7 separate regions of the Homo sapiens genome follow, and regions 1, 2, 3, 4, 5 and 7 are each linked to region 6. Evidence: fine-mapped expression QTL. A gene starts in region 6. Each other region holds a variant in brackets. All regions are shown on one strand. Distances are between the middles of the regions.

Region 1 (4,066 bases), 430 kb after region 6:
GCTGTTAAATGAACACCTTGATATCTTCGTTCTTGGAGAGAAATGAGCCAAGGAGGAAGACCATCTAAAAAAAACCACTAGACAATTTGTGCTCATTGGAGTGGTCTCTGCTGGGCAAAAGGTCTTTAGAATGACTCATGGATTTTCTGGCAAGTGGCAAACCACACAAGTGCTATGTCAGGCCAGGAAGACAGGTGCAGCCCTGTCAGTGTCAAAGAAGAACACTGGTAGCAGAAGAGCTAAGAGTGAATGAAAATTGAATTATCTTTATTTCTAGGACTTGTCTATTGAGAAACAACAGTGCTGGCAACCATTTACTACCAACAAGAGGCAGTTCCAAGAGAAGAATATAAAATATGCTCTGCTCAATCCCACAAAACTCAGAGTGTCTCACAATGGCCAATTTCTTATTTTTACCCTGTCCAGAGACAAGGAAGGATGCATCAGGGAGCTGCTGGCCTCTGCGATGAATAACTTGAGTCAGCCTGCAACATGTGAAAGAATTCAGCTGATCAGGATTTATAACACTAGCTGGATTTTTTGCTTTCTCTGGGGTTCATGAAGCATGGTGTTGTGAGATACCATAGGAGTCCCAGAGTAAAGTTACATACCTACTTCTCTTCCTTATTTTTATTTTTTTGGCATGTTCATATTATTTTATTACCAACATCGTTGGCATCCCTGAGTATGAGAGTTCAGAAGAAACTTAGAGGCTATTGTCTGATTCAATCCTTGCAGCTTACAAAAAGAAATGCGGGGAGCAGTCACTGCGTGACTAGCCTGAGGTCACTCAGGAAGTTAGAGGCAGAACTGCAGCCAGGGTCACCTCTCTTTACTGCTACTAGTGTGCTCTTTCTACTGCACCCTGATCACAAAACATCTCCCAACCCAGGAACAAGGTCTACCGCATAGGTGAGCACAGCAGCATGATCACTCTCTCAGTCATCTGTACTCCTCCTTTGCTTTGACCAAAGACACAGGAAGGGACATTTTGCCCCACATAAAACACCTCTCAAAGGCTTGGCAACAACAACAGATAATAGAGAGCATTGACCTAAGACCAACATTTCAACCATGGTGTCAAAACAATATTTTATTTCAGCAAAGAAAAACTATGTCACAAGTGGATTATTATTACTAATAATCAGACTAGTGGTACTTGCGAATGACTTGGTTTCATACTCACACTTGGACAACTATGCACACTGAGTATAACTGACCTTATGAGAACATCATTCTCACTAAGATTATGATGTGCTTTCTCACGTGGGAACTGTACATAATATTGCATGTACCCTTGGGAGGATGTCCTGCCTGTGATGTTGTCTTTCAGGGGAAGAAGAATGGTTGAGAACTGAGGGTATATTAAACATTTACTTTTCCAGATTTTTCAAGATTTCTGTTAAGCGAGATCAGAAGAAAGCCATCTATTTGGATTGCATCACTCTAACCTGGTAAGTCGAATTGTCTACACAGAATTATAATTTCACGATATGTCCAGATTACTTACCGAGAGCCAATTTGAGACACCAACAGGACTAGTAAAACATCTTTGCCCTGTGGGTAGCGTTGCTATCAAAGACCTTATACATTATGTCATTCAAGAACCTTTATATTAAGATCCTTATGGAAAATCCTTCCCGAAGTTTAACCCTATGATAAAGGGTTTTTTTCTCCTGGTAACATAGTGGGCAATTGGGAACTGTTTAACCC[A/G]ATGCATTGATTTCATTGATTGTTTTGGTTGCCGAGAAGTATGGATGCTCAGAACAGGTTTTCTTGTTTTCAACTGCTAATTCCTTTATTTAAATTGTAATAAATGTTTCCCTTTACTTCTTTCCTTTTTCTTTTTAAGAAATTTAATGTATTTCCTAATATATTATAAATTATTAATAGATCAATTAGCATAGAATAATCTGGAATAATGCTTAGAGATCTCCCATTGAAAAAGACCCCAGTACCATAGGGTTCACAGCTGAGTGTTAACTGAACTTGAACAAATTCTGATTTTATTTAAAATGATCAAAGCCTAGTAAAAAAATTCCTGCAGATCATATGGGGCACATAATAACTAAAAAAAAAAAGAAAAAAGAGGGGTGGCTTTCTTCAATTAATTTTATAGTGTAATATCAAAGCTTAATAGTTAATATATTTCATCTAATGTAGAATGTCAATGTTTAGAAATCAGACATTATTTCATGTACCATTAGAGATATACTGCCAATTAAACTGTGACTTCCTTACGAAAAGCAAAAAAAGGAATTTTAAAGATATTAAAACATGTAAAGAAGAATATAAGCACTATACTCCCAATCCCTTCAATTAACATGTTAATATTTTATTGCATTGGTTTTCAGTAATTACTTTTAATAAAATAAAGCATTATTAGCTAATGTTCCACCCCTACCACTCCAATCTCATTCTCCTTCTAGGTGCCCCAGGCCCAATTGCTAAAATAAATTTGTTGTACACTTTAAAGTCAATTTTCTATACGTTTGCACATAAATTTGTGTATTCGTAGAAAGTATTTTTGTGCTGAGAAGGTACAATAAGCCCTTCAAAGTTGTTGATGTTCAGATTCCAGTTGGCAAAAGTCTTACACATGTGACATTAAATATTTTCAGTATTAAACATGCACATTCCACAAGTTCAGCAGTTCTGTATTATATATCCAGAGTCTGCCCTGAGGGATGCTTACAACCTTAGTATAAACTCTCACTCACCCCTTTTAGAGAATAAAACTTACACCTATGTAATGACCAGTCCAGGTACAAGGGTGTCCTCTAAGAACATTCATTCATGTACTCAACAAATCTTTATTGAGCACCTGCACATTTCATGCCAGGGAGGTGACCTGTGTTCTCCCTACACAACAGGAGAAAGAGTGGTGGCATCGGCAGGAAAGTGCAGTGGAAAGGAGGAGCTGACTTTGGCAGGAAAAAGAACGATATTACTTTGAATTTATCAACTCTGACGTAACATCCTGATAAAAAGTGCCATATCCAAATCACGTTGAAGATTCTCAAAGGACAGTACCAAAGTTGAATAAAAACACAGTGCCTCAAATGGGAAGTGGTATAGAAAGGCCTGAGGCTGGGGTATGGAGGCACACGGGGTGCAGAGAACGAGGGAAGAGAAGAGTGAAAAACTGCTCGGGGTGGGGTGGCATTGATGGCGAGAGATGGGTGTAACATGCATTTATGAGGACAGACATGATCAGGTTTAAAGAAAAAGAATTTTTTCTTTTTCCAGCAGTCCCACTACGTGGCATTTATCTACAGGAAAGGAAATCAGCATATTTAGGAGATACCTGCACCCTCATGTTTATAGCAGCCACTATTCACAGTAGCCAAGTTTAGAATCAACCTAAATGTCCAAAAACATAATAGATTAAAAATGTAGTATCTATTCACAGTGGAGTACTATTTAGCCGTAAAAATAATGAAATCCTGTCCTTGGCTGCAACATGGATCAGGCTGGAAGACTATATTAAGTGAAATAACCTAGGCACAGAATTATAAATCTTGCATGTTCTCACTCATATGTGGGAGCTAAAAAAAAACGAACTGAGCTCATGGAAGTGGAGAGTAGAATTCTGGTTATTATAGGCTGGGGAGAGCAACAGGGAGGAGAGGACAGGGAGAGGTTGGTTAACAAATACAAACTTACAGCTAGATAGGAGGAATGAGTACATCTATGACACCAAGCTGGGAATCGACAAGTGTGACAACTCCTCCATGTCCCTGAAGATGGGATACAGTCAGGGCGCTCATCAGAGCAGCCAGGCCTTCGGCCTGGGCCCACAGATATACGACCCCAAGTACTACTGGGGAGGCCCAGTGGCCCATGGCGCTCCCTCGGGCTCCGGTGACTTCCCGGGGCCAGGGGAGGCCCCTGAATATCTCCCTTACCACCAGGAGGAGACCGGCTACTGAGGCTCCCAGCACGCTCTCTCCACACATGGTCTCCCCTTGTGGGTGTTTGGGTTTTTCTGTGTTTTCATCTTTTTTTTTTTAAGCTGTTCAGTGCTGCCAGTCAACTGAGGGTCTGAGTGGCAGCGTGGGATCAG
Region 2 (4,066 bases), 120 kb before region 6:
GGTTGTTGTGGGGCCTATGGGATGTTTCAAAGAGAACTTTTAAACCCTAAATAGTTATAAATACAAAATGCTATTTTTCCCCTCAAGGGCAACTGCCATGACATCTCATTCATCCCAATGTCCTCACAGCACCTGTCCCAGCAAATCCCACAAGTGGCACACACAGAAACACCTGCCCAACTGCGTGAGGCCAGAGAAGTGATTTCATCTGCTCTGAGATGGAGGACAGTCCACCCAACAGATGAAGAACCTCCGGCTCAGAGATGCTGCATGTCTTGCCCAAGGCCACACAGCCAACGGGTGGCAGAGCTTGAGTCAGAACTGATGCTGCAAAACCCTCCAGCCCAGCCAGGGGTCAGGAGCCTCAGGCCTCACTGGTGGGGGTCCTCAGTTCCCTGCCTTTGCCCTCACATCCTCCCACCCTTTCCCGCCTCCCAAGCCCCCTGTGGCTCCTGCTGCCCAGTCGGGGCCCTGTTTCCCACTCACTTGGGCCTGGGCCAGTCCTTGCAGCTCCTGGGCCAGCTGCTCCATGCTGGTCTTCACCACGGGCCTCTGGATCTGCAGGTGGACAGAAGAGGCCAGGAGGGATGAACCCAGCTCCCCTGGGGCCCACCACCACCTGATCCCAGCCTCCAAATCCCCAGTCTTATCAAATATAACCTACACCAGCTAAGTGTATTGTGACACATCAGTCACAGTGAGTTTTCCCTGGAACTGTGAAATATTTCAGACATTTTCCCAGTGAGATAGAAACAACAAGAACAAATAAGGCACCCTCTGGTGTAACTAAGGAAGAGGCAACTTCCCAATGCGTCCTCGGCAGCAGTGGGTTCAGGACCATGAACAGCAACACATGCTGTTGGGTTGGGGGAGAGGTTGTCCATTCCTGTGTGACCGGGGTGGTGGCAGGAGGACAGGCCCAGGGGCACATGATCTGGGGACACCTCCACAGGAAGAGGCCCCAGGAAATGTGGAAGAGCCAGAGCTGGGACAAGGCAAGATGCACACCCAGCTCCTCTGTGGGCCCCTTCGTTCCATCACCACCTGCTGAGGAAGCCCTGCTGAGGTGCCCACCGCTGACCTGAACGAGGAAGTCGGGGTAGTGGATGCGCTGAAGCCCACTGCTCTGCAGGGCCTCCAGGTCCCGGCGGGCGGCTGAGCTCAGCAGGTCCAGGCTCTGTGTGTCTACTTTCAGGCTCTGCAACTCCTGCCGTAGCTTGTTGGTATACTGGGAGAGCAGGCGCAGGGTGGGAGTCATGCCCAGTTGCTGAGCCAGGACCCCAGAGATGCTCCCCTAAGCACAGGGGTCACCAGGCGATATGGTTTGGATATTTGTCCCCTCCAAATTTCATGTTGCAATGTGATCCCCGGTGTTGGGGGTGAAGGTGGGCCTGGTGGGAGGTACTAGATCACGGGGGCGGATCCCTCACGTATGGCTTAGTGCCATTGCCATGTGATGAGTGAGTTTTGCTCAGTTATTTCACGTGTTTGAAAGAGTGTGGCACCTCTGCGTTGGCTCTCTCGTTCCCTCTCTCCCTATGTGATGTGCTGGCTCCCCTTGGCCTTCGGCCATGAGTGGAAGCTTCCTGAGGCCTCCCCAGAAACGGCTGCCGGTGCCATGCTTCCTGTACAGCCTGCACTTAAACCTCTTTTCTTTATAAATTATGCAGCCTCAGGTATTGCTTTTTTTTTTTTGGTTGGGGAAGCGGACAGGGTCTTGCTCTGTTGCCCAGGCTGGAGGGCAATAGCACAATCACAGCTCACTGAAGCCTAGATCCCCCGGGCTCCAGTGATTCTACCACCTCAGCCTCTCGAGTAGCTGGGACTACAGGTGCAAGAAACCACACCTGGCTTTTAAAAAAAATTGTAGAGGAGGGTCTCCCCATGTTGCCCAGGCTGTTCTTGAACTCCTAGGCTCAAGTAATCCTTCCACCTCAGCTTCCCAAAGTACTGGGATTACAGGCATGAGCCACCATGCCCCAGCCTCAGGTATTCCTTTATAGCAACACAAGAACAGACTCACACAGCAGGCCCTCAGGGCCCCCTGCCCTGGACACCCCAAGCCCCAGACAGGCTCCCAGTAGGCCCCTGCCCCAAATGCCAAGACCTGGCCTTCCTCCAGTGCCCATCTGGCTTCTGGGCAGAGACACAGACCTTCCCTGGCCACCTGAAATAAAATAGCTCTCTCAGCCGCTCTTTATCCCATCAGCTGTGTCGAGGCCTTCAAAGCACTTGTTGCTCTGAAATGATCTTATTTGTGGGTTAATTGTTCAATGCTGTCAGCTCCACAAGAGTGGGACTTTGCCTGCCTATTCAGCCCCAAACCCCCAGCATCTAACTCGGAGGGTCACACATGGTGGGCAGGAGACAAGTTTGTTAGCTGTGTGAATGAATGAATGAATGAATGAATGAATGAATGAATGAA[A/TGAAA]CTGTATTTTCAGGAAAGAGCCTTAGCATTTTCCTACTATCACTGGAAGAGATTTAGAGGTCATAAAAGTCAGCCCAGTGTTTAACAGATAAGAAACTGAGGTCAGAGTGGAGCGTCCACTTGCCGAGGTTACACAGGTGGTTAGAGACTGCAGCCCAGCTTGGCTCTCCTCCCCGCATCCCTCCAGGCTGCCTTCTCCTGGAGGAGAAAAGGCCTGGCCCTCTCGGGTGGGGGCCTTCGGGCCGTGTCTCAGGCATCAGTGGCAGCAGCTTCAGGAGAAGTGGAAAGGTGGCTGGTGCCCTCCCCGTGCTCTGGAAAGCCCTGTGTGTTACTCATGTCTGCCTACCCATCAGTGTCTCCTTTGAGGACGAGGATTCTTACAGCCACATTTGGTACATTGTCAGGTGGCCTCAGAGGACTGCCCAGTGCATCTGAATCCAAAGCCCTATCTATCCAGACTCTCCTGTGAGCTGGACCCTCCCCTGCCAAGGACCAGAGCCCAGGACTCCTCCCCTCGAGAGCCATGGCTTCCTGCCAGTAGAGGATGGGGGCTCCTCTGCCCAGGCCCCTGGTTCATCCCTCCCTGGCCAGGCTTCCTCCACAGGGCAGTGTCTCAGCCTAGCACTGAGATATCGCCTGCTCGGGGAGCTCCTGTCTGGTTAAAGATGCGGAAGGAGGAGTGAGCTGCATAACTGTCCCAGGTTGTGCAGTTCAAGGTACAGAGTTGGGGCTGGGCCATCCGGCTGTGCTGTCCGTGGGCCGAGGCTGGTTGGTGGATCCAGGGGTTGGAAGGGTTTCCCAGAACGATGCAAAATCAGGAGTTAGCATGCTCTGTGTTTGGGGAGGGCGAGGGGAACCAGGGCCAGGGGATGTGGGTTTCCCCAGCATATGCTTAGGAGCGTGGAAGTCGAGGAGTGAATGTCTTCCAGCTGCTGTGCACCATGAGGAGAGCCCCATTCTCAAAGTCCATCCCTCTTGTGAAACAGCCCTTCCTTGCCTTCATTCTAGAACTGTCTCTTTCCAGCATTGGCAAGTGTCTCCAGTTCTACACACCAAGTTCCAGTAACTCCAGAGGTTACAGGAAGAGGCTTGTCAGGCTGGGGATGGAATCCTGCCACCACCACCTCCCACCTGCGTGAGCTTGGCAGGCCCTCCACCAACGTTAGCCAGACTCACCACCATCCTTGTCACTGCCACGTCCTTCCCCAGCCTCCCCCTCCCAAGTGGAGCATCCCAGCCAATGCCTGTCCTCAGTCAGGACACATGGGCCCCCTCATCCTCCTGCTCACTGTCACCAGCCTTTCCTGCTGCCACCTTGGCTGTGCTTGGGGCTGGACATAGCCTTCAGGTGCACACGGACCCACCTACACACCCGGAACCTTCCCCAGAGCTGATAACTGGGCCTCTGCCCTTGGGCACCTTAATCGCTCACACAGACTTCTCAGGTCTCCTAGGTTCAAAGAGACGGTGCCTCCACAGAGGCAAAAAGACCAGAGGAGGGGGATCTGAGGAGGGCTCCTCACAGTTTCCAAAACGTTCTCTCACCTGGTTGATATCCAGGTGCTCCTCCAGGTCGTAGGAGTCGTTGAGCTGCAGGACTGTCCAGAGCGCTGCCCCTTCCTTGCACTGCCTGAGGAGGAG
Region 3 (4,066 bases), 100 kb after region 6:
TTACCTGTGAAGGAAGAGAGCAGCCACAGCTAGGAACCCCCGTGTCTGCTCCAGCGCCCCAGCTCTTAGAAGCTGCTGTCGCCGGGTATGATGCAGACAGAACAAAGGCCACTGAATAACGCGGAGTAGGAAAAATCACTTCAAATCTGTTTTTTCAAATCGCGTTATTTTAAATGCCCTGGGCGGATGCCCACGTGTGCAGGGACACTCAGCCTGTCCAGAGGCGCTTTGTCTCTTTGAAAGGCCTCTTTGTAACCCCACACCGGCCCCAGTTGATACCCAGAACAACAGGCCCTTGTGTGGGCCCCGAAGGCAGGCTCGCTCCAGCCCACGGCTGGCAGCGCAAACCCTTTGCTGTCTCTTTAAGGTCAGCGTAAGGCAGCCTTCAATCCTCCATTTGGGCTGCTTTGCAAAAATAGTCCTACAACCTGCGGGAGTGGGGGTACGAGATGCTTTTTAGAATTCGGCTCTCAAATGTTGAAGAAGCCCGGCTCATATAAGCTGTGTCTTCTCCAGAAGGGAAGATCGATGGGGCTCTATCATGTGCAGAATGGGGGGCAGGAGCTTAGCTCCCTGGGACACCTCCCAGGCCACCCTGCCCTGCACAAGGAAGGCCACCAGGAGGATACTCCCAGGATCGCCCCCTGAAGCAAGGGGGCCACAGCCTGGGAAGTCACAGGCCATAGCCTCCAAAATGTCCTGGCTGGATTTGGCTTATAGTTACCTTTTGCTGATTGCTCTCTGGTGATGTGCCCCCTCCCCACACACGTGTCCATAATGAATCATAAGCCCCATGGAGCTGCTCGAGGGCCATGGAAAGCAAGAAGGAATGCAGTGACCAAATCACTGTCCAGTGAAATCTACACCAGAGCGCTCCCAGACACTGTACCAAACCCTGGCTGCACCCCCATCAGAAACTCCCTTTCACCTGGCATCTGTCCACCACAAGGTCTCATCTCACTGTCATTTCCTGAGAGGCCAGAGGACAGACATGCATGAGCACAGGTCAGCTGGAGCGGCCCTGGGGCGCTGGGCCTGCTCACTTATGCGGCCGTGTTTATTGAGCACTGGCCCCGTGTCCCTCCTGGCGCCTGACCGGGCACTGCACGTTCCTGGGTCCATGGACAGCACACAAGCCACAGGGACAATCAGGGGAGGGGGAAGCCCTTAGCAGTGACCCACGAGGCCCAGTTGGTCCAAACCCCTCTGTTCTCTTCTCTGCTGGGCCCACAACTTGGTGGGGACAAAAGTGGGGTGACTGACTATGGTCTGGCCTATTCTGCAAGCTTTGGCTCTGAGTCACAGCATACACAATGGCCTCTTCCTAATCCTTTCTCAGGCTTGTGGATAGATTTAGCTCCTTATTCTGTGAGCTTAAAAATACCCAGTTCCTCACCTTTGCAAAGTATCAGCTGGACTTTGGCTTTGGCTCTATGGGGGCTGCAAAGTGGACCCAGCAGCTACCTGAGCTGGCGTGGCTGTGGCTGCAGCTCTGAGCAGCCAGCTCTTCTCCAGGAGACGCTGAGTGCAGGGCCTGGCCGTGGCCGTGGGCTGCTATAGGCCCTGCTGGTGGACTGGGGCTATCCTAAGTGCCTGGCTTCATCACTCTCTGAAGGCTCCTGCCTACCAGCATCCTGTCAACCACTAAATCTCACTGCCACTTCCTGGGAGACGGGAGGACGGCCCGCGTGAGGACAGGTCTGGGTGCCTTGAGGTCATATCAAGCCCAGGGCTTCAGGGCCAGAGGGAGGCGGCCCTCAGTCCAACTGCACTTCTCACCACCTGCACCAGCCTCAGTTTTCTCACCTGTAGGATGACGTGGCCACTGGGAGAGTGACAGAAAGCTATATATGGAAAGTGCTTACACAGTGCCTGGCACAAGGCAAGAGCCCCCAAAATGGCAGGGAAGATGGTTACACAAGAGTGAATTTGGGTCTTCTGGGCAGTTGCGTTTGATCTAAGTGAGGGCCACAAGCAGGCAGTCTGTGAGTGCCTTGGGTGGCACCAGGCTCTGCCTTAGAGGAGGTCCCCTCCTGTGTAAGACAGAGGCAGAGAGGTGAGGGGTGCCAGCAAGAAGCAGCTTTGGGGGCTAGAAACCATCCCCTCAATGGTCCCAGCACACAGAAGGTGCTCAGCCGGTGCCCCTCTCTGCAGCCTGCTTCACCCAGCAGGCTTCTCTAATGTCCCCATTCCCAACCCTTCCTACCCAGGCATCGTGGGCTCCCAGGGGAGCAGCACCCATGGCTGGCAGGGCTGCC[G/A]CCAGCACTCATGTGTACCTGCAAGCACAAAACAGCCAGATAGGGACAGAGCTGGGAACAGAGATGCAGGAGCAAAGAAACCCGACAGGGGCTGGGGTGTGAGGGTGGGGGGTGAGGAGGAAGAGCAAGACCGGAAGGGGGCATTTTTTGAGGCTGGAAATGAAACCTTGCCCATCCAATTTACATCCAATGTGAATAGGATGCAAGTCAAATGTGAAATGAAACTGCAAATTTAAAATATGCCCAGGGCTAGAAGGAATAAGAAAGTGGCGTCAGAGAACCATCTGCAAAGCCTTTGGCTAAATTAAAAATAGAGAAAGAGTATATGAAAGATTTTTTTAAAAAGAGAATGATTAAAATGTCAAAACATTGAGAAGCCCTTGGGAAACTAAGCCTTCCATTTCTCCTCCTCCTTCTCCCCCTCCTTCTTCTTCTTCTTTTTGATGAGGGTAAAAAGTGAGCTTCATTAACATGTTGATGGCTTCCTGTGGACAGTTTTGTTGAAAAATGAGACTTCTCTCAATCAACACTGGATGGAAATTTTGTTAAACATGTAACAAACTTCCTATTACTTCTCATTAGGTAAAGCCCCAGTCAAACCTTTTGCTCATGATATACTATGAAATGTTGGCTGTTTGACGTGTACTTACTAAGAGTGGCTGGTTTCTGGTACCAGTTATCCTGGATTAACAAAGGACCTCCTGAATAGACCAATTTAGTTGTAGACTCTCCAAGTTGAAGAGCAGTAAAATGTCAACTAAACTCACCACTTGAGGCTTGAATTTTATTTTTATTTTATTTTATCATTTTATTTTAGAGACAGGGTCTTGCTCTGCTGCCCAGGCTGGAGTGCAGTAACACCATCACAGCTCACTGCAACCTCAAACTCCTGGGCTCAAGTGATGCTCCCACCTCAACCTCCTGAGTAGCTGGGACCACAGGTACATGACACCGTTACAGCCTGAAGCTTGAATCTTTGTCCCCATGGCTGCCAGCAAGAGGTTGCAGATGCTCTACCACACACCTCCATGGCAGGAAGCTCACGGGTCTTCAAGCACCTCTTCCAGCGTCCCATCTCTGGAATGGCACTAACTTCTCGGAGCCATGGGATAAGGGAGCGTTTCATAACAGAGCTGGGCTTTCCAGATTCCTAACTCAGTGCCTCCTTCCTAATCATCCCATCTCCTTTCAACCCAGACATCTCAGACTTGAAACATGGCATTCACCCCTTGTCACCGTACTTCCTTTCACTCTGTAATTTCCTCTCCTTTCTCTCCTATGGAGTGGCCCGAGGAAATTCTAAAATAATGTATTATCCACACAATGGGAACAAAGCAGACTGCCCAGGAACACGCTGATGAGCTTCACAATGAGTGAATGAAAACTTGTGCACCGTGTTTTCTTTTGGTGGAAGGAGGTTCTAGTGGGGCACAGACTGTTGTGTCTTGTAGGAAGGAGAAGCTGCCCCTGGCTGGCACTTGGCCAGTTTCCAGAGAGAGGGGAAGCCATCTGGGCAGGTAGCTGGGAGGGTGGGCTCCCCAGCACCGGGCTCTGAGAGTGCAGTGGCCTGGCACACACAGTGTCCGTCGTCTGAACTGCCACCTGATGCTGTCTCTTGAGATTCAGGTTAAGTCAAAGGATTCCTCAGAAAGAAAGCTGAATTGATGGTATTCTTGATGCTGAGGAATTCAACCCAAACCCAAAAAACACCCAACAAATGTATTGAACATTAAGACATTTTATAAAGTATTTCACAGGGTTATCGTCTTCCACCATGGACCTCTGGAAAGATCTGTTGGGTGAGTTTT
Region 4 (4,066 bases), 550 kb after region 6:
ATGTTGGTGATAAATCCAAAAGTCCTGTAATGTGTTTGTTTTCTCATTTTTTAAAACCAAATATTTGAAGCTATTTTATTAAGGGTTTCCTTTTCCTCAAAAAGTAAATGCATTAAATATAATCTAGATATTCTACACTCATGAGAAAGATATTTCATTGTATATAACCAGAGCTATAGGCCTACAAACATTTGGACTTTATCAGAGGTAAATAATAAGAGATCATACTATTAGTTAAAATTAAAGTATAAATTTAGATAATTATTTTTAATTGGTTATTTTTTAAAGCTGACATAACTTTAATTTACAATGTAAACTCAGGAGTGAAAGAGCATTAAGTAACTCATGATCTGTAAAGAAAATTTCAAAATTTAAGGTAAGTAATGAGATTTCCCCATATTTCTGTGTTTAATTCATCAATGTTTTTAAAATACTTAAACCAGCTAAGAAGTGTGTTCAGGTTTCTATTTATTTTAAGAGTGACTTATGTATTTTTCTCACAAGGGAGGATGATTTTAGAGGAGTTTAGAGCCTGCATCGTGGTTCCAAGTTAGCATCACCGTTCCTGGTCCTTCCATCTTTCTGCTTAGTCATATTTAACTTGTGTTTATTTCTTCATGATCAGAATATGTGTCTTTCTCAACTATCATATGTATGTTCTAGGTAGAAAGGAGAAAAACAAGAGTTTATGTTGTTCTGTCAAATTATAGAAAGTTTATTTGATAATAAATCAACTGTTAAAAAGTACCCTTTAAAAGTATAATAAGTATACAATATTAAAAGAAAGCATGGGACTTTGCACAATTGTGAAATCTATTGAGAATTTTGTAAGTTTTTAAATTTTGATCTGTGCTGTCATTTATTAATTCAGTCAAAATTTGCTTCAAAAACACGTAGTTGTCAGAATATGTAAGTGCCTTAGAAGAGTGCAATCTATAAGTAAAATAATTCTGAATATTCATCTGAAATAGTTTGAAAAGGTTTTGAAAATCTACCGTCTCTCTTATTTCTTGTAATCAACATATTTTTCAATAGGAAAATTCACCATTTGCCATCAAAATGTATCATCTGAAACTTCCACTGGAACCTTCATATGGCAAAATATTTAGGCATTCTGAGGAGATGCAAAGTTTGGTAAGCAGAATAAATATGTTTTAATATTTAATAATTATAAATGATATTTGGAAAATTATAAAGATGTTCTTAGTTCAATTAATAGAGTAAGATTTATGTATCTATTAAGGCTGCTGGGCCAGACAGGGTGGCTCACACCTGTAACCCCAGCACTTTGGAAGCCCGAGGCAGGAGGATCACCTGAGGTCAGGAGTTCGAGACCAGCCTGGCCAACATGGTGAAACCCCATCTCTAATAAAAATACAAAAATTAGCAAGGCATGGTGGTGCTTGCCTGTAATCCCAGCTACTGAGGAGGCTAAGGCAGGAGAGTTGCTTAAACTCGGGACATTTCAATGAGCTGAGATCTAGCCACTGCATTCCAGCCTGGGCAACACAGTGAAACTCCGTCTCAAAACAAAACAAAACAAAAAAAGTGCAGGCAACACATTATAATCAATATTAAAAGTTTTTATGTTGAAAGATGGATAAGAATTAAAACTTTGATTTTTCAACTGAGAAATTTAGTTGAGATATTTGAAATTACTGGAAAGCAAAAGGAAATTTTAATGTACTGCGGAGTAGCCTAGGGTAGTATGTGTATGTATTTCTACTAAATGCAAAAGAAAGTACCAGATAAAAATGCAATAGGCTTCTACTTCTAGTTCAGGATGGGAAAAGATGGGGAAGACCAAAAAAGATCTGCATAATGCACAAATCCATGTGATTTCTGAAGGGAGTGGACACGATCAGTCTTGATAAACTGATAACCAGTTAGTGGATCTGCAGGTTTCATCTGTGGTATTTTCTTTTAGATGATTTGTGTAGTGACTAAAAAACAGTCAATACATTTAAATAAACTGCACATGGTGCACATGTACTCTAAAACTTAAAGTATAATAAAAAAATAAATAATAAAATAAATAAATAAACTTT[C/T]TTTCTGGTTTAGTAATTGAGGTTGGCCAATGTCTATTATTAATTGTTAACTATTTCCTAATCAATAATCTGTCTTATATTAAACTGTACATACACATTACAAGAAATTTGAGTTACACTCACACATAACTGAATAACATATTTAATGCTTATATAGGCATGCATATAATGTTAAAATCTAGATATAAAAATAAGAAAATGAAACCATGATTTTTAAGTAATGGAACTTGTTCCAAAAAATCAAATGTGGTTATGCATTGGTATGACAATTCTGAATCCTGCCCTCAGGCAGCATCTGAACACTGTTTTATTAGCTATCAATAAATTGTCTGCACTGCAGGCCGATGATGGTTTAAGGACAGCAGTGTTAATAATAATGTTCAAAGTGTCAGTCTGGAGGGGAGGCAATAATTGACTGTATGAGACTATTAAGCTATAAAAACAATGTTTTATTTTGAGCATCAAAATATGATAGAGCTTCAAATGCTCTTGGTGAAGTCATTATTAACACACACAAAACTGATTTTCATTCAACGTTTACTGTAGAGAAAATTATATTCCATCAGGCTTTAAAATTGAGAAGAAAACAGAAAGAGTAAGTCTTAAATGCCTTTCTTCCTCACCTTCCTCCTTCACCTAGTTTGCCTGCGGACCTACACAGTTACATTCCCACATACCTCCTGTGTTTATTTCTTTGCAGATCATTTACCTTACATTTCTACATTTCCCCTTAATTTTTTCCTCATCAATAGATGAGAAAAAAATTTGTTAAATCATGGTAGATGAATATGGACCAGATCATCCCATGAACTACGTTCAATCGTTGGTTTTACCTTTCAAAAAATTCTGAATGAAATATGTAATAATTTAATATTCTAAAACTTTATTTTTTCAGGAATATTTACATATATTCACCCTTCCTTCTAAAACAGTGGCCAGAGCAGTTAGAAAACAAAAGCATGAGAAACAGTAACTCCTACAGTTGTATTATGTCTGTATGCCTCCCCAGTTCTGCAAAGATTATGAGGATTTTTTTTAGGTCTGTACATAGTTTTAAAATATCCTAAAACAATCCACATAAATAAACTCATTACCATAATAATCTGCAAGATAGACATGGTCATCCTCAAGTAATATCAAATAAATCTTATTTGCCTGCGAGATCTGAATCTGAAAATCCAAAAGCTCAAGTTTACCTAGCTAATAGGTAGTAAGACTGGGGCCTCAATCTGGTTTATCTAATTCTGAAAACTGTTTTGCTATAAAAGCACTATAGGAAATAAAACATTAGACTGTATACCTTTAGATAATAAGAATATTTATGTCATTGAACCTGAAAAGATACTGTTTAACTTTCATGTTCTACTTGTCATTTTTCTTTTCTGCTTTTATATGTAATTTAGGTAATAGATACCCAGGAATCAACTTAAATTCCCATCAGTGGTAGACTGGAAAAAGAAAGTACGGTATATATACATCATGAATTACTATGCAGCCATAAAAAAGAATGAGATCTGTCCTTTGCAGCAACATGGATGGAGCTTGGAGGCCATTATCCTTAGCAAAGTAACACAGGATCAGAAAACCCAATACTCCCTATTTTCACTTATCAATGGGAGCTAAATAATAAGAACACATTGACAGAAAGAGCAGCACAATAGACACTGGGGTGTGCTTGAGGGAGGAGGATGAGAGATGGGTGAGGTTCAGGGGAAAAAAATTGTTGGGTACTATGCTTACTATTCAGGTGACAAAATAATCTGTACATCAAACCCCTGAGTCACGAATTTACCTAAAGAACAAACCTGCACATGTTCCCATGAACCTAAAATAAAAGTTAAAATATTTAAAATAATAATAATAATTTAAAAATGTGAAATGTTGTGATAATTACTAAAATGTCAAATAGAGACACCAGGTGAGCACATGTTGTTGGAAAAATAGAATGAATAGACTTGCTTGATGCAAGATTGCCACAAACCTTCAATTTGTGAAAAATGTGTTATTTGTGAAGAGCT
Region 5 (4,062 bases), 280 kb after region 6:
GGTGTTGGACCACCTGCATCCCCCTGCAGCAGGCAGGGAGGGCTCTGCAGCCACCACCCACACACACCTGACCCCTCCCTGGCCATCGTGTCTAGGGTGGCAGGGAGTGAAGCCCCCACCCAACAACCTCCCCCCAGCTCAGGGGCCTTTGAGTTCACCACCATCTGCTTCACTACAGGTTTTCCCTGTGCTGGGGGTGATTGCAGGGAGATGGTTCTTTGGTGTTCCCTGGGCAGGTCATTGCCTCAGCTCCTGCCTGGTGTCCTGGAGCAGCTTTGAGGAGCTACATGGACAGGACACGAACTGTCTGCAGCCCCCAGGTGAGGCTTGGCTGCTGTGTCCCACTGCCTCTGCTCCTGGCTGTCAAAGCCCCATGGTAACAGCATCCAGGGCGAATTTAAATGGCACCCCAAAGAATAAGAGTGGGCTTGGGTGTTACTGTAGTGACTGGTGGTTTGCGACAAGTAGTAGTGCGGCTTCCGTGGTGACAGGAAGTGACATTTCCCCCTGAATCTGCACTGGAGAGAAGGTCCTGGAAGCTTTTGGGCCCACCCTCCAGGGTCTGGGTCTGCATCTCCGAGAGTGGCCAGGTGGGTAGAAGAATCCTCCCTGCCTGATAGTCGGGTTTGGAGCTGGGGAGGGACGGGCCTGGTTAGCAATGAGCCTATTGCAGTGAACCAGAGCGAGATAAAGCGAGAGACCCAGCCCAGACACCTCCTTCCCTGGTCCCAGCCCCTGTGCCTTGGCCTGTGCGGTGGAAGCCAGGCTCCCTCCTCCAGGAAGCCCTCCCTGCACTGCCTGCTCACACACAGCCTCTTCCAGATTTCTCCCCATCCAGGCTGAGTAAGATTCCCAAGAGGGCTCCTCCCCGAGGCAACTGCCTGCAGTCAACATTATCACCTCCCCCAGTGAACAGCAGTAGTGTTTTTCATGTTCAGCAGTGGCCTCTGGAGGGGTCCTAGCAGGTCGGGGAGAGAGGTCTGAGTTAGCCCCACGTGAAAGGCAGCCCATGCCTCTCCTCCCAGCAACCCCCAGCAGCAACTTCCACCTGGCTGACCCCACCCAGCTCACAGAGCTGCCCAGCTGGGTGTCCTTGTGGTTGATTGGGGGAAGGGGCTGTTACCTCCTGGTCCCCTCCAGGCTGAGACAAGAGCCCTGTGGGCCTGGATGTTGGAGATGGGACCCCCACCCACATGCTCTCCAGGTGGATGCCCACTCTGGGCTGTTCTCAGGCCCCTCTCCCCACACTGGGCCTACACCCAGGAGGGAACTCCATGTACCCCTGCCGATCTGCCCATCTGAGCCTCAGGGGTCGTGGGCACTGAGAGCTGGGCTGGGCTGAGCTCAGGTACACACTGTCATTGGGGACAGAGAGGGGATGCTGAAGCGGGCGCTTCTGGGTGGGGCCTGCCTGGAGGATCACCCCAGCAGGTGCACCTAGCAGCCAGACAAGCTTCTAGCAGAGTAAGCGCCCTGTCCACAGGAGTATGTGAGCTGAGGCTGGGGGCCTGGAGGTGCAGGGGGAGGAGTTGGGGAGATGCAGAGGTCCCAAAGATGTCCCATGGTCCTAAGACCCTGGTGAAGGAATGGAGGAGCCAGCACTGGTGGGGAAGTGGGGAGGGAGGAGCTGGATGGCCTGGCTCTGAGCTGGACACACCGTCTGCGCCCACACCTGAGCTGTGCTGTGGAGCCCCAGTCCCCACCTGGGCACTTCCTGTCCTCTCAGGCACAGGGATTCCTGGTTCTGGCTCTGACCCCTCATCTCCAACTGTTAGGATGATGAGTCCATAGGCAGAGCCAGCCTCACAGGGGACCCAAAGGCCAGTTCAGATGGACAGCAACTCGAGGTCCCACCGTGCACACACACACACTGTGCAGAAAGCTAACGCGCTGTTTATTTGGGGGACTGGGGGGAAGCACCGTGCCGCTGCTCACTGGTAGCCAGCCAGCTGCAGGATGGTGGGGTAGCGAGTACGATGGGCCATGCACTTCTGGCGGTCGATGAAGAGACT[G/C]TTGGTCATGGCGGCAATGTCCTTCTCCAGGCTCATGTGGATGTCCTCGAGGTTGCGCAGGGACTGCTCCGCTTCTAGAAGCTTCTCTCGCAGTGCTGTGAGGGACATGTTCAGCTCCTCCACCTCACTCAACAGCCTGGGGGTGTTGGGGGGGTGTGAGCCGGGGCTAGGGAGGGCAGAAGTATGCACCTACCGGGGTGTAGGGGACCCAAAACTCCCAATGGGAGCTGGCAGGAGGTCCTGGGAAGACTCCATGAAAGAACCCCATCAGGAAAGCAGCTCTAGGGCAGAGCATAAATTACGAGGGTCCTCCCAGGGAGCGTGGGCCTGAGTGGGAATGAGTGACCCGTGTGCAATCTCGACCCTGGCAGGACAGGACTGGCCTCAGCCGACCAGGCTCAGTTCTTTCCATTCCTGATACTTGATGGAAGGAGGCCCCCAGTTCCTTGAAGGAACTGAGGGGCAGGGAAAGAAGAAAGGTACTTAGAAGGGGCCACCGGGCATCCGTTATCAAGGGAAACAAAAGGACGGCACATCTATGCCTGTAGCGCAGGCGTAGGTCATACTTCCCACCAGAGGTGTGGACAGCACGCTCAGGGCAGCAGGGAATGGCCCTGCCTGGCCTCTCTGGCTCTGTGGCCTCCTGGAGCTCACCTTGTCTGAAGGAGCTTCCTCCCGGGAAGATGAGGTAGCATAGGGTGGGGTGAGACCACGTGGGCACAGGTCCCTGGCACTGGGAGCCCCCCGACCCATGACCTGCCCAGTGTCATGTGTATGTCTGTGTGTTTAAGGCATGCCTGCTTGTTGTGTGTGGCCCCAAAGTCTCCCTCCCCTCTCAGCACCTGCGGGGGATGTGTGTGCGGGGTGTTGGAGTGTTTATTGGAGAGAGTCACAGGGAGGAGGTGGACAGGGCCACCTGGGACTGCCTCAGAGGCCCAGGCAGCACCTGAACTGGGCTGCGTCACGGCACAGCTCCATGTTGGGCCGGTGCGAGCGCAGGTACAGCCGGGTCTGGGCTACGTGCAGAGGTGCCTCTTTGTCCTTGATGGCCTGCTTCAGTGCCGCCACGTTGTGTTCCTGATCTGTGATTTCCCGCAGTGTCTGCAGACAGGACAGTTCTCCTTGGGCCTGTGCCCCCATGCCCGGGTATATAGAACGCCGAGACCAGGCTGGTCCTACCCAGGTCTTGGGGCTGTGTCCAGAGGGCAGTCCTGACCAGTGGCCCTGGGGAGGCGTGGATGAGGGGAACAATGTGCACGGGGCCCCCAGTGGGCTCTGGAGAGTCAGGAAGCCTGTTGTCCCTTAGCTGTGGTCCAAGAACCCCCATCCTTGGTGGTCACCAGGACCTGAATCCTGCTCAAGGACTGGGGACTCAGAGGTGGTAAAGGCCACGCTGAGACCCTAGATTCAGAGCCCTGCCTGCCAGGCCAGGACTCTTGGGGACCTCCCGGGCGGTCAGTGTTCCCCAGACCACCTCCTGCCTCCATCCTCCCCACAGCTCCTCCTGCTGAGTCATAGGGGTGGCAACACCGGTCGATCATACCCAGTGTCACCTGGTTTTACATAGGTTTACGGAGAGGAGACACTTGCTTCTGGGGTCCCTCGGGATAAATGGGACAGAGGAGAAAGGTGTTGAGGGCCCAGGCCAGGTGATGAGAGGGGGCCGTCTTCGGGGTTCAGGGTGCCCCACCTTGTGCAGGTGGTGATGCAGCTTGTACCGCGCGTCCTCCAGCTCCTCACAGCGGCGCCCGAAGGCCAGGTTCACGGCGTCGCACTGGAGCCGCAGGTCCTCGGAGGTGTCGCGAAGGATGCAGTCCACCAGCACCCGCAGGTTGGCCGAGGCCAGGCGCTCGCGCTGGGCACGGCACAGATTGTCCTGCGTGAACTTGGCCCGGGTCTCCGGGGTGGAGGCGCTGCGGGGCGGGGGACAGCCAGGAGAGGGTCGGGGAGGCTCTGCCGAAGGCTGGGAGCCCTGCTGCGCCCCCATGCCCTGTCCGCGCCCCATGCTCCTGGAGGACGTGCATGGACTCCGATGCACCCCATGCTGCCC
Region 6 (4,066 bases):
AAATGGTGCACTAGAGCACTGAGCAGGAGAGAGAATATTCCTGGGGTAATGAATGTGCATTGTAACAAACAAGGGCCTCTGGATCAAGATCTGTCCCAAAGGACACAATGTAAGAGTGGGGAATTTCAGACACTGCAGCAGGCCTACAGAATGGGCATCAGGGAAAGGCAGTGGCCCTCAAGTTCTTCTGAAGTAGTTCCATTTCTAGTTCTGTTGAGCCATCAATGAGATGAAAATCTTTTCTCATTTGTCCATCCCCTCACCTTTTTGGTTCGGAGCACCGAAGATGGAAAAGCTCCTATATCAGCCATGGTTCCCAGACAATGTCCCCCTGCGTGGAAAAGGGCTTGCTTGCTGCGCCATCCTGGCCATCTGTGCCACTGGAAGTGCTGGCAGAAAAGTGAAACAGAGACTGCAAAAGCAGGAAAGGAGAATGGTCTCTTTGCCTTGATTTCGTGTTATTTTGTCTTTGCCTTGATTTTGTAAGTTATTTTGTCCTGAACTCCTAAATAGGGTTGATAAACCAATCTCTCTGTCCTCACAAGTGGCCCTTCTCTGGCTGAGGACTGCCTCCAGAAAACCACCGTTTTAATACTCAGACTGTGTCTTAGGCATTGGCGCTGCTATAACAGAGTGTCTTAAACTGGGGAATTTGTAAACAACACAAATTTGTTGTTCACAGTTCTGGATGCTGGGAAATGCAATATCAACGTGCCAGCCAGTTCAGGGGCTGGTGAGGGTACGTTTCTCATAGATGGCACCTTCTGTGTCCTCACATGGCAGGAGGAGCAAAGGGGGCTTAAGGCCCGTTTTTATTTTTATTTATTTATTTAATTTATTTTTTGAGACGGAGTCTTGCTCTGTCGCCCAGGCTGGAGTGCAGTGGCACGATCTTGGCTCACAACCTCTGCCTCCCGGGTTCAAGCAATTCTCCTGTCTCAGCCTCCTGAGTAGCTAGGATTACAGGCGTGCACCACCACGCCCAGCTAATTTTTAAATATATTTTTGGTAGAGACAGGGTTTCACCATGTTGGCCAGGCTGGTCTCAAACTTCTGACCTCAAGTGATCCGCCCGCCTTGGCCTCCCAAAGTGCTGGGATTACAGATGTGAGCCACCACGACCGGTCTAAGGGCTGTTTTTAAAGGGCACTAATCTCATTCATGAGGGCAGAGTCTTCCAAAGGCTCCACTTCTTAATACTATCACCTTGGGAGTTAGGTTTCAACATATGAATTTGAGGGGGACACATACATTCAGACCATAGCAGGCCGTTTTTCCATTTCTTTTGGGTCCTAAATGATATTTGTTTCTGGAGTAGGAGGGCGTTCAAAGTCCTCTTTTGTTCTTCAGCACCCTTCGCTGAATTCAGGGGCAGATGGAGAAAGGCAAGAGGCACGGGGCAGCCTGTAGAAGCAGTATCTAGCACTGAGTCCCCAGTATCCCCTAGGCACGCCAGGAGAGCCTCCTGGAAATCCTCACTCAGCAGATCCAGGGTAGGAACGCGGCTTCTGTTGAATAGCCTTACATCGAGATATGCAGGTTGGGGGCGGTGGCTCACACCTGTAATCACAGCACTTTGGGAGGCTGAGGCGGGAGGATCATCTGAGGTCAGAATTCGAGACCAGCGTGGCTAACATAGTGAAACCCCGTCTCCACTAAAAATACAACAAATTAGCTGGGCGTGGTGGCGGGAACCTGTAATCCCAGCTCCTACGGAGGCTGAGACACGAGAATTACTTGTACCCAGAAGACAGGTTGCGGTGAGCCGAGAGCGCGCCCCTGCACTCCCACCTGGGCGACAGAGTGAGGCTGTCTCCCCCCTCCCCCCAAAAAACGAGAGAGATATGAGGCTCAGCTACCAAAGTCACGCGCGAGAAGGGAAATGCTTGTAGGTCCCTGCCCTTGGGGGAGAGCGGAGTGAAAACCGGCGCGTGGCCGGCGAGCACGGCCCCTCCCAGCGGAGGTCCTACAGGCGCCCGCGAGCCCCGCCTCTCCAGCTTCGCCGCGCCAGCACCCCGCCACCGGCGCTGGCTCTGAAGGGCCCCGGCGGCGGCCGCGTCTGCGCAAGCTCGGGACGGCCTCGGGAGGCGGGGCTGGCGCGGGGCGGACGCGGGGGCTGGCGCGGGGCGGACGCGGGGGCTGGCGCGGGGCGGACGCGGGGGCTGGCGCGGGGTGGCGGGCGGGGGCTGGCGCGGGGTGGCGGGCGGGGGCTGGCGCGGGGTGGCGGGCGGGGGCTGGCGCGGGGTGGCGGGCGGGGCCTGGTCCTGTGAGCGTTCGGAGACTGCGGGCGCGCAGACCTGTACTGGGCCCGCGCCCCGGCCCCTTACAGAGCTGGGTGTGTCCCTCCGAGTGCCCCCCGCTAGGGACTGTGCAGGCCGGAGCTAGGCAGGGACAGCGGGGCGAACCGGGCTGATAGAGTCGGTCCCTGCTCCTGTGAGGCTCTCACCGAATCCCTGCTGTTTCCGGGCAGCTGAAGAGCGCTGGGCCCTCGCGTCGCGGGCGTGGCTGTGGCCGTGTCTCCTGGTAGTCTGAGCCCACTGTGCGTGTGGATCCACGTGGGAGCTGGGTTCCAGAGCCTGGTCCTGAGGAGGAGCCGAGCCGGGGGTAGGAGGCCGGACTTGGCGAGGGAAGAGCACGACCCCGGGCAGCAGTGCGCCGCGCTGGGCGCACCGGGGTTTGCCGGCCCTGCTCTGGGCCCTGCAGGTCCGCTGGCCCCGCCGCGCCTAGTGGGGATGCCCCGTGTCCCCCAGGCAGCCCCAGCCTGCGTCCCGCTCCCTGAACCCTCGGGAGGACCACAGGGCTGTGGCCGAAAGACAGAGATTTGGACCTAGTGAAAGGACGCCGCTCCTTAGCCCCAGCTATGGACTCCACAGCATCAGGTTTGGCTCTGGAGCGTGCAGAGGGCCAGGAGCCCTCTTGGGGAGCTAGTACCGAGCCCGATATCAGGAGGACCCCAGGAAGAGGCCGGGGAATCCCACTGAAGGGTGAGGCTGTACTTCATCTGCCTTCCGTGTGGCGACATCTAACCTTCCAGACCCAGAAGGCTGAAGCCGCAGTCTCCTGGGTCTGGCAGGGGTCTCTAGATGACCGTGGCGGAGGTGGAGGGGATGGCCATGGAAAATTGTCCCAATGGCCAGAGGAGAGCAGAAGAGGATCTGATCTCTTCCTGCTGCGGCAGGGAGAGGGCAAGCAAACCCAAGAGGGAGTGGCCCTTGGCCAGGGATCAGAGGACGATAGGGCCATTTGGAGCCTTGTCATCCACCTCCTTAATCACCTCACTAATAAGGTTCTTCCAGTCGTTCTAGCTCAGCGGTGTATAAGGTCAGCAGTGTACATGGTGGGTATCTCCTCTGAGCCCCTTCCCCCAATAGCGTTGGGGGCAGGGCAATCCAGGTGACCCAGGAGGTTTTAAGCCAGTCCTAAGTTTAGAACGTCCTATCTCTAACCAGGTGGGCATTTTAATCCGACTGTTCATCCTTCAGTGCACATGCTCAAGGACACATAACTGGCCAGTGGAAGAACTGGGCCCAGTCCGTGGGCTTCCCACCCCCTCTTTTTTCCTTTATACCCTTGTTAATCAGTGTGGCTCTGGGAACAGCAGAGGCATTGCCCAGAAGTTCTCTAGAATTGCAGACTCTGGGGCCCCACACATCCTCAAACAGTGTCTTAGCAAGTCTTGAGCCAGAGTTTAACAAGATCCTCAGGGATCCACACACACATGAAGCTTGAGGAATGCCTAACTGTGCTATGCTTACACCCATGTTGTTAGCCTTAACTACTTCTCTGGCATGGTTTGGGTTAGTTTTTTTGTTTGTTTTAAGGCTTTTATGAACAGTATGATGCAAAGCTTTATAATGAAGGAGCTCTCAAGTGTGTTGCAGAGACCTAACAGAGCTTGGGAACACCAGGGGCAGCTTCTCAGAAAGAGGTGGCCTCTGAGCTGGGTTCCCAAGGATGAGGGGAGAGGTGTAACTTCCTCCCCTTAAAGCCTCATAATCCTGCATGGCCTTGCCTTGGGTCTTGTGTAATTGTTAACCTGTAGGCTAGATTTAAAGTTCCTTGAAGT
Region 7 (4,066 bases), 240 kb before region 6:
CCAAGGTACTAGTCAGAAAGTGGCCCTGGGGCTTCTGCAACAACCACTATATCACACAGCCCGAGCTCAATCCAACTCTGCAAGAGTCCATAAGCAAAGGGGCGGCGACATGAGGTGGAAACAGTAGCCTCCATCAAACAAAGCCTGAGACATGGGTGTGCACGTCGGATTCCATCCCACCGTCCACTCGCCTGGAACCCGTGCCGGTCCCCCAGTTTCCCCATATGCCCAGCTCCAGCCCCGACAGTTAGTGAGTGCTCACACAGGTCCGCCCCGTCTGTGTGGTCAGAAGCGGCTGGGGATCCGGTACTAGTTCTGCGCTCCGCGGGAGACCGGCGCCACGGACACCCTTCTGGCCTAGACCCAGCCAGGCTCGTCCTACCTGGCCGCGGCGGCCGATCTTCCTGCGCTGTAGGGTTAGAGCTCGCGGGGCCGAAGGTCAAGGGCGGCGGGCGCCTGAGCACTGCCACCAGTGACCGCAGCCAGCCGGGGAAATGCAGCAGCTGCTAACCCAGGGCCACTCGGCCGGATCACCCGAGAGAAAAGCGGGCGCGATCCTGTGACGTCACAGGCAATGGCCACTAGCAGGGCGCCAATCCCGGAGGGGCGGGCCCATCGTGGGGCGGGCGGCTCCGGCGGGTCTTCAGGCTACGGGTTCAGCCAGGCGCCAGCCGCGTTCTCTGGAGACGCTCTCTCTCGGAGGGACCCTGCACTTGCCTGAACTCGAGAGTGGGCGCTGCCCGAAGGTTTGTCCCTGGGCGCTTCGCTGGCCTCATCCGGTCTCGGCCTTGTTCTGGGCCTGGCGCCTTTCCCATTGTTGGGGAAAGTGGTCTAGGAGACCAAGGCAGCGTGCTGGGTGGCAGAGAATGATTTGTGGCTTCTGATTCTGACATATGTCGTTGAGGAGGGGAGGGATGACTGCCCCCGTTTTACTTATGGAGAACCTGGGGCCAGAGCTGTTTTCCCAGGGTGACACAGGCGGTGAGTAGTGGAGCTGGCATTCCTGACCCCAAAGCGCAGCGTTTCCCAGCCACTCTCCGCAGCCAGGCCTTCACCTGCACTGCTGGGCGCAGGTGGGGAAGTGGGGAAACGGGACTCCATCCCCTGCAGAGGGCAGGCGTGTAGGGAGTGGCAGCTGAACTCCACAGACAGCTACTGCTCAGCTCTTCAGCTGCCGACTTTGAACAGTGTGAGGGGCTCTGTACAAGTGGCCCCCACATTACTCAAGGACCAGATCATCAAGAGCTTTACTTGTCCCACGAAGGAGTCTGGACCTTGTTTACGTGCACAGGAGACCGCTGGAAGGTTCTCAGTGGCGTGCCATGTCCCGACTTCTATTTGAGAAGTTTTTCTCTGGCCACCCGTCTGAGGAAAGGTGTCTGGGTGGGTGGTGCGGTTGAGAACAATGGTGGTGCGGTGCGTGGTGGAGAAGGTGAGTGTCCAGAGATGTTCAGGAGGAAGAACTGACAGCTCTGAATGACAGGAGGTGGAAGTGAGAAGGAAGGAGGTACAAGGCCAACTCCTGGGTCTCTAGCTCGGTAGGTGCAGGGCCGTTCATGGAGACAGGGCTCCTGGAGGAGCAGCGGGTCTGGGGAGAGGATGGTGAGCTCCGATTTGCATGGGACATCCAAAGGGCATTGAACGGTGGGCAGTTGGAGACATGGGTCTGGAGCTTGGGACTTCAGCCTAGCTTGCAGAAGGTCACCACAGATATTGAAATGGAACCTATGGGGGTGGCTGTGATCAGGGGGATTCGCTGAGGAGAACCTGGCACAAGGGTTTCACTAAGCCATAGCTCCCAAAGACTTTCTGAAAAGCTAAGTTACAGCCTGGAAGAAAATATCTGTAAAGGCTATATTTGATAAAAAGACTTGTATCCAGAATATAGAAAGAATGCTTAAAAGTCAGTAGATAAAATCAAACAATTCAATTTTTTAGATGGACAAAATATTTGAACTGACATTTCATCAAATAAGATATACAGACAGAAAATTGGGACATGAAGGCTGGGCGCAGTGGCTCACGCCTGCAATCCCAGCATTTTGGGAGGCCGAGGCAGGCGGATCACAAGGTCAGGAGATCGAGACCATCCTGGCTAACACAGTTAAACCCCATCTCTACTAAAAATACAAAAAATTAGCCGAGCGTGGTGGTGGGCGCCTGTAGTCCTAGCTACTGGGGAGGCTGAGGCAGAAGAGTGGCGGGAACCCGGGAGGTGGAGCTTGCAGTGAGCCGAGATCGTGCCACTGCACTCCAGCCTGGGCGACAAAGCAAGACTCTGTCTCAAAAAAAAAAA[G/T]AAAGAAAAAATTAGGACATGAAAAGATGCTCAACATCATTAATCATTAAGGATATGCAAATTGCAAGCGCAATGTGACACCATCTCACACCTACTAGAATGGACAAAGAAGACTGATTATACCAAGTACTGGCAAGAATGTGGAGGACCTGGGATTCTTGTACACTGCTGATGGGATTATAAAATAGTACCACCACGATCGAAAACCATTTGTCAGTGTATGAAGAGAATTAAACATACACCTACCATATGATGTAGCCATTTCAATCCTGACTATTGACAGTATTGAATTTTACCTTAGCCCTTTGCTTCTAGAAATAGTGAAGGTTAAGGAATCCCACCACTCTTTTGTTCCAGAAAACCCCCTACTGGAAAGAACCAGTGACTTTCTATATAACCTGGATAAGACTCCCAGATGCTCCCTTGTTTATCTGTGACCAGGCCAGACACAGACCCTCTAAATTCCCATTCTTGGCCTCATAAATGATTAGCTGGGCTGCTTGTCCCACAGATCAATAAGAACAAAAGCCTGTAACCAAACCTTGGTTCAGATTCTCTCCTTTTCCAAGCCCTTGAGCTTTGGCCCACCCACAGCTTGTGCCAACCCGCAGCCCTCCTGAGGTTCCCTCCTGAGAACAGGCTGTCCGCAGGGTAAGACCTCCTCGATCGTGACACTCTTGCTCAGCCCACTTTCCCATAACAGTTCTTTCTAGCCACGTTTACGCCTCCCTATACAAGATCAGCCCTTTGCCTAACCTCTGAGACACTTGCAGATCATATGGGAAGCCTGCGAGTGGCCGCACTGCAACGTTTCCCTATTGCAATGGTCACCCCCACAACAATCCTTTGGAATAAATTCGCTCCTTATATAATCCAGATTTGTTTTTTTGTTTTATAGTAATTACCTGAGAAATTTAAAAAAAATGCTTATGCAATGGCTTATACAGAAATGTTCACAGCAGCCTTTTTACAAAATCCCCAAACTGGAAACAACTCAATTTTTCATTAACAGGTGAATGTGTAAACACTCTGTTATAGCCACACTAGGGAATACTACCCAGCAATGAAAAGGGACAAATTGTTGATGCAACATGGATATATATCAAGATAATTATTCAGAGTGAAAAAGAGATTAAAAATGAGTACATATGGAATTATTTCATTTGTATAGAGTATCCTTGGGGGGTACTTTCCAAGACCCCTAGAGGACGCCTGAAACTGCAGATAGTACCAAACCCTACATCTGCTACGTCTTTTCCTATATATACATGCCAGTGATCAAATTTAATCCAGATGAAGTTAACCTGGTGCTACACGGTTGCTGTTCAATCAGAATATGTTTCTGTTCACGTCTTCCACCCACAAATCTAATGCCTTTTCCATCCTAACTAAGTGCTTCTCACACACTGTAGCCATAACTTTTGCAGTTTGAGGTGCGACAGCAAAACTGGCACAAATTTCTTTTTCCTTCTTCACAATTTCATGGATAGAAGATTCGTTCTTTCTGTAGCTCTTAGCAACCTCATTATGTGATTTTTGTTTTATTTCCTTAAGTCAGGAGCGTTCCCATAAAGGAAGGCTTCTCTTTGGCATATCGGAAATGCCGACACCACTCCCCTTTTGCTCTGGGGCCATTATGAAGTCAGATGATGGTGCCTTGCACAGAAGCACTGCGGTACCACGACAGTGGATCTAATCACGGAGCCAGCTCATTGGTGACTAAGGGGCAAGGAGGGCAGACGTCATGGAAAAGCTGAACAGAGGAATGAT

Evidence for each region. PIP is the estimated chance that this variant, and not a neighbour inherited with it, causes the effect.
Region 1: its variant is fine-mapped to the expression of ZNF514 in aorta (GTEx, PIP above 0.99).
Region 2: its variant is fine-mapped to the expression of ZNF514 in whole blood (INTERVAL, PIP above 0.99).
Region 3: its variant is fine-mapped to the expression of ZNF514 in whole blood (TOPMed, PIP above 0.99). The same link has a PIP of 0.9 or more in tibial nerve.
Region 4: its variant is fine-mapped to the expression of ZNF514 in gastroesophageal junction (GTEx, PIP above 0.99).
Region 5: its variant is fine-mapped to the expression of ZNF514 in esophagus mucosa (GTEx, PIP above 0.99). The same link has a PIP of 0.9 or more in whole blood.
Region 7: its variant is fine-mapped to the expression of ZNF514 in whole blood (INTERVAL, PIP above 0.99).

Annotation. Positions count from the first base shown.
Region 1 is chr2:94,725,534-94,729,599 of GRCh38, reverse strand. It overlaps the pseudogene CNN2P11. Among named protein-coding and RNA genes, the nearest start is that of FAM95A, 34 kb to the left of the region's middle. The variant A/G (reference allele first, on the strand shown) is at 1,714.
Region 2 is chr2:95,282,131-95,286,196 of GRCh38, reverse strand. It overlaps PROM2 (prominin 2), which reads right to left. Exons shown (of 24, transcript NM_001165978.3): 14 at 3,971-4,055; 15 at 1,082-1,228; 16 at 487-558. Among named protein-coding and RNA genes, the nearest start is that of PROM2, 9.7 kb to the right of the region's middle. The variant A/TGAAA (reference allele first, on the strand shown) is at 2,426.
Region 3 is chr2:95,053,907-95,057,972 of GRCh38, reverse strand. MAL (mal, T cell differentiation protein (MAL blood group)) reads right to left here. Exons shown (of 4, transcript NM_002371.4): 4 at 3,981-4,066. Among named protein-coding and RNA genes, the nearest start is that of MAL-AS1, 29 kb to the right of the region's middle. The variant G/A (reference allele first, on the strand shown) is at 2,259.
Region 4 is chr2:94,608,928-94,612,993 of GRCh38, reverse strand. No RefSeq gene overlaps it. Among named protein-coding and RNA genes, the nearest start is that of AQP7B, 24 kb to the right of the region's middle. The variant C/T (reference allele first, on the strand shown) is at 2,049.
Region 5 is chr2:94,874,639-94,878,700 of GRCh38, reverse strand. TEKT4 (tektin 4) reads right to left here. Exons shown (of 6, transcript NM_144705.4): 4 at 3,703-3,925; 5 at 2,959-3,113; 6 at 1,878-2,148. The coding sequence ends at 1,932. The region is part of intron 8 of LOC442028 (a long non-coding RNA gene); the gene reads left to right. Among named protein-coding and RNA genes, the nearest start is that of TEKT4, 5.2 kb to the right of the region's middle. The variant G/C (reference allele first, on the strand shown) is at 2,013.
Region 6 is chr2:95,157,778-95,161,843 of GRCh38, reverse strand. ZNF514 (zinc finger protein 514) reads left to right here and starts at 1,996. Exons shown (of 5, transcript NM_032788.3): 1 at 1,996-2,604. RefSeq lists a silencer at 1,920-2,169.
Region 7 is chr2:95,399,189-95,403,254 of GRCh38, reverse strand. It overlaps FAHD2A (fumarylacetoacetate hydrolase domain containing 2A), which reads right to left and starts at 547. Exons shown (of 8, transcript NM_016044.3): 1 at 383-547. RefSeq lists enhancers at 1-837, 829-908, 838-1,777. The variant G/T (reference allele first, on the strand shown) is at 2,297.